Homo sapiens: one gene and its partner. The protein of the gene in region 1 interacts with the protein of each later gene in a pairwise test. Each region holds a gene or a part of one and is shown in the gene's direction. Other genes may lie near its edges.

The links. The genes of interacting proteins can lie anywhere in the genome.
Region 2: the proteins of CPEB2 (region 1) and ERI3 interact in a two-hybrid assay, tested with the Homo sapiens proteins (one study listed by BioGRID).

The regions. Positions count from the first base shown.
Region 1 is NC_000004.12:15,000,448-15,004,195, forward strand, and holds the start of CPEB2 (cytoplasmic polyadenylation element-binding protein 2), read left to right. Parts: upstream 1-2,033; 5' UTR 2,034-2,226; coding exon 2,227-3,748. UniProt on the Homo sapiens protein: May play a role in translational regulation of stored mRNAs in transcriptionally inactive haploid spermatids. Binds to poly(U) RNA oligomers. Required for cell cycle progression, specifically for the transition from metaphase to anaphase.
Region 2 is NC_000001.11:44,353,452-44,357,199, reverse strand, and holds the start of ERI3 (ERI1 exoribonuclease 3), read left to right. Parts: upstream 1-1,942; 5' UTR 1,943-2,173; coding exon 2,174-2,308; coding exon of another isoform or gene 2,309-2,362; exon of another isoform or gene 2,363-2,447; coding exon of another isoform or gene 2,448-2,495; intron 2,496-3,748.

The DNA.
Region 1 (3,748 bases):
ACAACTGTACTTGGAAAAAAATCATCCGTTGTTAAGACTTTACATTCCTTAGTTGCAGAAGTAGTTTTTTTTCCTGCACAATACCTTTTAAAAAATGAATATTTAATATGTCAATATATACTCTGAAAATAACCATTTATATTTTAAATTCTGAGCTCAGGTTATTTTCTAGACATTGTAATTTAGAATAAAAATACTTCTCCAGTTCTACATTTTGCCTGACTGTTAAAAATGATTTTGAGATTAATAAGTTGAACCAATTTTCTATTCACCTGACCAAATTCTGAACCATTTGAGTTTTTTAAAAAGTACTTTTTCCTTATTGTAAAGGCAACATAAAACTTGGTTCATTGGACAGGATAGCAGAGATAAACATTATACATGAAGTATAGTTCCCTGGGGCAATGTTGCTCTCTTTCTACCATGTTTATTTCGATTTATATAAATTTGAGACACTGAACAGAAGTAGAATTCAAATAGAGAATGAGGACTTATAAAAATGTACACTCTGCCTACATCAGTAAGAGTATGCTAATTTATAAAATTAAATATTTAATCTTAGTTCACTTGTAAACCAAAATCAAGTAAAGTCTGAATCCACCTTCTATTGCTTTGGGGGTTTGAGTCTATATTCTAGGATTCATTTAATAGTTTCATTTCTCTAAGCATCAAGCAAAACAGTTAAAATTACAAAACAGAAACATAAAGTTCACCTCATCATGTAGTATGGATCACTCTGTTATTCTTTATCTAGACCTTCAAATACTTTATGTAAAATGTTTCTATACAAAAGGAAACACAGGATTAGTTCCTCCTCTAATGCTTCTAAAGAGCTCTACCATGGAAAGCTCTCTCCCTTCCATTTTGCAAGTCTCAACAAGTCTGCTGCTGAGTCAGAACCTCCTTTTTTCCCTGATGTAAGAACTATTTCTCCCTTGAAAATTCATAAAGCTTAGGAATAAATTAGAGTCTCCCTGGGGGGAAGGGGCGGGGACGCCGGAATGAATGTGGTGGGGAGGAGTCCCACGCTGCAGCCCTGATGGCACACGAAAGGCTTTTATGAAGCGGAGCTGGCCCGGGGTTACTATGGGAGCTCGCCGTGGAACCCGTTCCACGCATCCGAGTGTGTAAATAACCACGCGGAGCGTGTTTGTTCCAGGGACTTTGTTCCTTCTTACCCAAGTGAAAATGCCTGGAATATAGCCGAGGCTTCATGTTTACCCTACAGAAACACCCTCGGCGGCTCTACGACGTCGGTGACAGCACTCCTACCAGCGCCTAAAAACAGAAACAAGCTTAGAGGGCGCTACCTAGGGCTACAAGGAGGCCCTAGATCGGGGACTCGGGGTCTAGAGGTGCGCGGCGAGGCGCTCAGCGGACTTCAAGCCGGCAGAGCCCAGACGCTAGTTCACCACAGGACCCCCGGGCTGGGCCGGGCTCCCGCGTTGCGCTGGGGGCCCCTCGGGCGCCTATTTCTACGCGGGTCGCACAGTGCAGGCGCCGGTCGGGGTCCCGGGCCTCAGTTTCCCCCGCGGGCCAGCCCCGCTCTGGGAAGCCCGAGTGGTGCAGCAGGGCTTCTCCCCACCCAGGGCGGAACCGAGGTGACAGGAAGGAGGAGGCACCGCGAGGGGCGGAGACGCGTGCGACCCAGGCAGACTCTGCGCGGATCCCGCGCCAAGGAGGGGCCGTTGCCCAGGAACCGTCCCTCCCTCCCGCGCGTGCTTGCCCTCGTGCGCGCGCCCGCCCAATGCTCCCGACCACTGTTTGCCAGCCGACCCCCACCCCAACCGGCCTGTCCATTTCCCCGGGAGCGGAGAGACCCAACGGGACACGCCGCTCGCTCCCGCCCTCCCGGGAGCGCGAGCGCGCCCTCGGCTGCGTCTGCATAGTAATGAGGGGCGGGGAGGGGCGACGGGGACGCGGTGGCCTCGCGCCCGCGCGTGCCGGGACGCACCGCGGGGGGCGGCGCGATTGTGAGGTGGCGCTGACGCACGTTCCGGGGTTCTTAAGCGGCCAGGGCGGCTACGGCGACTGCGACGGCGGCGGCGGCGGCGATCGCCGCGAGGGGTGGTGGGGCCGAAGTCGGTGCCCCCTGGCTCAGTCACGGTGTCCCTCTCTCACTGACTCCCCCTCCTTCCACCACGGCCGCGCAACCCCAGCGCCGGCGGCTTCCTAGGTGGGGCAGGGGACGAGGAGCGTCTCCTCCCGCTGCCGGCGGCCTGATAAATGAGGGATTTCGGGTTTGGGGTGCTGCAGACCGCCCCGCTCCGAAGTAGCAGTCCTGGGCCCCTGTTCTGCGGCGAGGCGTATGGTCCTTACGCCGTGGGGTCCGTCAACCCGCTGCCCTCCGCCACGCCCTTCGGCCCACTGTCGCCACCACCGTTGCCTGTCACCGGCTTCTTAGAGGCCGCCTCCCCCTTCTCCGTCCCCCTCGGCGGCGGCGCGGGCAGCCCGGCCGCCGCCGCTTCCTCTTCCTCCCCGTTCCTGGCGCATCAGCAGACCATGCAGGATGAGCTGCTTCTGGGGCTGACACAGCAGCCGGCGCGGCCGCTTTCGGGGGCGGCGGCCACGGAGAAACTCCCCGACCACCACCCCGGCGGCGGCACGATCGCGGGTGTGACCCACCTCCTCCCCTCCCAGGACTTCAAACCGAGTCTGCACCACCCCTCCTCCTCCTCCGCCTCCTCCTGCTGCTGCTGCCGCACCTCCTCCCCGCAGGACTTCAGTAAGCGGCAGCAGCAGCAGCTGAGCAGCCAGAAGAGGAAAGAGTTCAGCCCTCCCCACCTTCCCCACCCTCCGGACTCGAAGCCGCCGCCGCCGCCTCCGCCGCTCCACTGCCCCGGTCGGTTCAGCCCGCCGCCGCCGCCAGCCGGCCCGCTCCTCCAGCCGGCGCAGCTCGCTCAGCGCCAGCAGCAACAGCCGCCGCAGCAGTTCAGCCTCCTGCATCAGCAGCACCTCTCGCCGCAGGACTTCGCCCCGCGGCAGCGTCCGGCAGACCTGCCCCCGCTCCCGCAGCTCCCTCCCTCGCCGCCTGCAGCCCCGCGGCGCCGCCACGGAGGCGCGGGCAGCCCTCGCAAGACCCCAGCCGCGGGCGAGGGCAGCGCCGCCGAGTCCCCCAATGCGGGCTTGGCCTCCTCGACGCCGGTGAACCCCGCGCCGGGCTCCATGGAGTCCCCCAACCACCCTCTGCTCAACAGTCCCAGTAACCTCCTGCCCGGAGGTGCGCTTGGCGCGGGCGCCTTCAGCAGCCTGCAGAGCCCGGACCTTCCACACCCGGGCGGCGGCGGCGGCGGCGGGGGCGGGGGGCCCCCAGGAGGCGGAGGGGGAGGCGGCTCCGCGTCGCCGCCGCCGCTGCCCGGCTTCGGCACCCCCTGGTCGGTGCAGACCGCGTCGCCGCCACCCCAGCCCCAGCAGCCGCCGCCGACCCAGCCGCAGCAGCAGCCGCCGCCACCCCAGCAGCCGCCCCAGCCGCAGCCGCAGCCGCCCGGCTCGTCTGCCACCACCCCGGGCGGCGGCAGCGGCGGCTCGCTCAGCGCCATGCCGCCGCCCAGCCCCGACTCAGAGAACGGCTTCTACCCCGGGCTGCCGTCGTCCATGAACCCGGCCTTCTTCCCTAGCTTCTCGCCCGTGTCGCCGCACGGCTGCACTGGGCTCAGCGTTCCGACGAGCGGCGGCGGCGGCGGCGGCTTCGGCGGCCCCTTCTCGGCTACCGCTGTGCCCCCTCCGCCGCCGCCCGCCATGAATATAC
Region 2 (3,748 bases), on another chromosome or scaffold:
AGTGTGGTGAAGTCCTGGAAGCTGTACAGTTGAGCCCTAGTGCACCAAGGAGGAAAGAACACATTCTGGGGAAGTCAAGGGGACCATGGAAGGCTCCACAGAGGATGTTGGGGCTGGGCATTACATAAAGCCTTGAATCCAGATACTATAGATTTACTTCATTCTTACAGCCAAGAAGATTGGCTGTGCCCTACTCTCAGGCCATAACTCAGTATATAACAAAGCTATCTCACTGCCTCTTGTCTTATTTTTATATTTACTTGTTTTATTATCTATTCTTCCTCCTACAGCCCCTCCCCAATTTATTTATTATGGCTCACTGCAGCTTTGTCCTCCCAGGCTCCAGTGATCCTCCCACCTCAGCCTCCTGAGTACCTGGGACTACAAGCACGTGCCACCATGCCTGCCTAATTTTTAACTTGTTTGTAGAGATGAGAATCTCATTATGTTGCCCAAGCTGGTCTTGAACTCCTGGTCTCAAAGGATCCTCCTGCCTCAGACTCCCAAAGTGTTAGAATTACAGACGTGAGCCACGACACCCAGCTTCCCTCTCCAATTTAAAAGCTCCTTGAGAATAGAGGTGTGTCGTTATTCATCAATGAATCCTCAGCAACAGAAACAGTGCCTGACACTTAAGAGAGGCACTATAAATACAGATGGACTGACTGACCAACTGGGGTTAATGTGTAGGTAATAATAGGAGAATCTGTTCCAGCTCCAAGAGTTGGGGGATAGTGCCTCCACTTTACTGACCTCGGGATAAGTCTGTCCCTGCTGCTGGATATTCCCTCATTTGTTCGCAGACATTTATTGCGGGCCTTCTTTATACCTGCCCTATGCGGTGTATTACTGATACAACATGAACAATATGGAAAAAATGCTTTTCCTAAAGGACTTAAAACCCTGTGGGAGCGACAACAAGGAAACAGACAATTATAAGACAATATGATAAATGCTATAGGTCCACAGCAGAATCACCTAACCTATGACGTGGGTGGGATTAAGGAAGGCATTCCCTGATATGGGGATTACCAGGCACTCTCAGCTCAGGTGGAAACCGTTATGGTAAGGTCCGCTCTCAGAGGTGGTAGGGCCCAGAAATGACATCATCCTAAGTGTAAGTATGCAGACAGCACACAGAGGGGCTTGGTAACTGAAGCTGGGCCCAGAGGATGGGGTCCTGACCGATTGGGAAGCTGTCAAAGCCATCATTCCCAGCTCATAACCTGGGACCCATGACTACCCAGAAAGGCATAACCAGGATGAAGAAACACAGGTCTCTCCAGCTTACTGGAGAGACTGACTGGGGAAGCTCCTCACAGCTGAGGCCAGAAACCTTTTAAACAGAAGTTTCCTCTGAGTGGACCTGAACAAGCCAGTTCCCTCTTCCTTAGGACGGCCCTTCACAAATCTAAGCATTTTCCTCTTAGCTTAATCCCTCCTTGTCTCAGGTCTCCCCCAGGCCCACATCCGAAAGTAGATGACAATAATTACTTGTTGAATGAACGAATCATGAGGAGTCATGTAAATAGAATTCTGTCACGTTGTGAGCCCACATTCACCTTACGGGTATATTGGAGGGCGGGAAAACGGAGATGGGGGGCTCCACTAATGTGTGTCTGTGATCCTGGTTAGATCGCTGTAGGCCATAGAAAGTTTCATTTTAAAAAAATTCCTTTCACAGATCAGAAGTGATGTCCCCGTCCCCGTCTTCTCTTCTGAGTTTGTGCAACGTCAAAACTACAAGTCCCATAAGGCCGGCGGCCGGGAGTCACCATCTTGACATACCTTAGCGCGCATGTCGGCGGGAGAGCGAGCGTTTGGGGAGAAGAAGCCCCGCCTGACTGCAGCCCATTGGTCAAAGGGGTCGGCAGCGGGCTCAGCGGTTGGCCACAGCGCCCGCCCGTCCGCCGCGTCGGTCGGGGTCAGAGTGCGCGGAGGTGAGTCGGTGTGTTGTGGACTCGTGGTGCTGGCTGCCGCTGTTCAGGCGGCCGGGAACGGGCGGTGGGGAGCGGGCGGAGCTGGCCCTGCCTCTGCCTGGCCGGCGCCGCAGTCGGCGCGGGCCGCGCCCGCCGCCGCCAACTGCCCTGAGCGCTTGCTGAGGCCGAGGGAGACGTCGGGGCCTGCACCTGGAGGGAGCCTGCCGCGCTGGCCCCGAGGAGGGGGCGTTGCCATGGCGACAGCCTCTCCCGCTGCTGACGGGGGGCGGGGGCGGCCCTGGGAAGGAGGGCTGGTCTCCTGGCCCCCCGCCCCTCCCCTTACTCTCCCCTGGACTTGGATGGGCCCGAGTTGGGGGCAACACCCCGGGGTGGGTGATGCTGAATGGCCCCGCCAAGATTGGGCCCTGGTTAATGCATGCGGGGTGAGGGTCGCGGTGCGCAGAATTTATGCAACCTGGGGTGCTGGCCCATGTGCTTACCCTGGATGCTTACTTAATCTACTGAGTAATGTTCTGGCGGAGGGGGAGCGGGGCAGAGCTTTGCAAGACAGGATGGGTGAGTTTATTAAGGGGGTTGACTTACTGGGATTACTAGAGAAGAAAAAGGTTTGACTAGAGAGGCTAGAAATGGAGCATGGAGATTGTGGGTAGAACATTCCCTTGACCCTCTCGCCAACACATGCCCACACACCAGGTTAGCAGTTTACCTCTTTGTAAATCTGAAGCGGTGGTAGTAGTGATGGTGGAAGGAGTGAATAAGGGCCTAACCTGGCTAGCTTTCTGTTTGCCTGTCTTGCAAATGGTCCAGCAACAGGTGTTTTCTTAAAAAAAGCATGAACTTGGATTGAGGCTTGACTGCGAGTTCTTGCAAAATATAACTGCTCCTTGTTGACTTGGAAGATGCTGGATGTGGGGCCCCTCAATGGGGGTTTGGATTTTGTCCTTAGAGCTGGATTTTGCAACAAATAGTGCCCATCGTTGTGTCTGCGAGAGGTCTCTGGCCACTTCAATGGCATTTACTCTTGTCAGACATTTAATCAGTCTCCCAGCGGAAGGGCAGCAAAACATGAATCCTATTGGCTAAAAGAGTGTACGCTATTCAAACTATAGTAGGTTGTGAGTGGCTAAATGAGTTTTGATTGTAGAGTTTCTTCCAGAAATTGGCTTCATCAAATTCTGCTTTATTCTGACTTTATCATATACAGCATGCCTTGTTTTAGTGGGTTCTTGCTTGGAGCTTAGTTTATTATACCTGAATCTCCTACCATTTAAAAGCCAATTTATAAACAGGGACTTGGAGTGTGACTCCACTAATGTGTGTCTGTGATCCTGGTTAGAAACCCACTTGGCTGCCTTTTCCTCAGGAGGTGGGGGTTGGGGGAAGGGAGCTGCCGGGAAGTGATTGATAAGGTTTCCTTTATAGATTCTGTGGTGCTTCACTGGAGCTCAGAGCACTTTGGCAACTTAAGCACTCCAAATTAAAAGCTCATTAACAATTCCTGCCCAAAGATCCTGTAAATAATCAGCTAGCTAGGTCATAGAGCTTGGCTAAGAGCTTTTCTTCCAACTTGAAATTTCCAAATAAAAGTGCTTTTATTCCCTTTCATTTTAAAAAGTGTTTTCTTTGTGGTGGGGTAAATTGGTGAGTGGCCTTTTCCCAGGGGATCTGAGTAGAAGAAAGTCTTAAATGTGTGGAATGGTAGACAGGAATATATTAGTTCCAACCCTAGGTGTTTCTTTATGCAAAAGACATCACTAACAGGGGCATCTCTGCAACTTCTGGTCCTTTGGAGGATATGAATTAGTTGA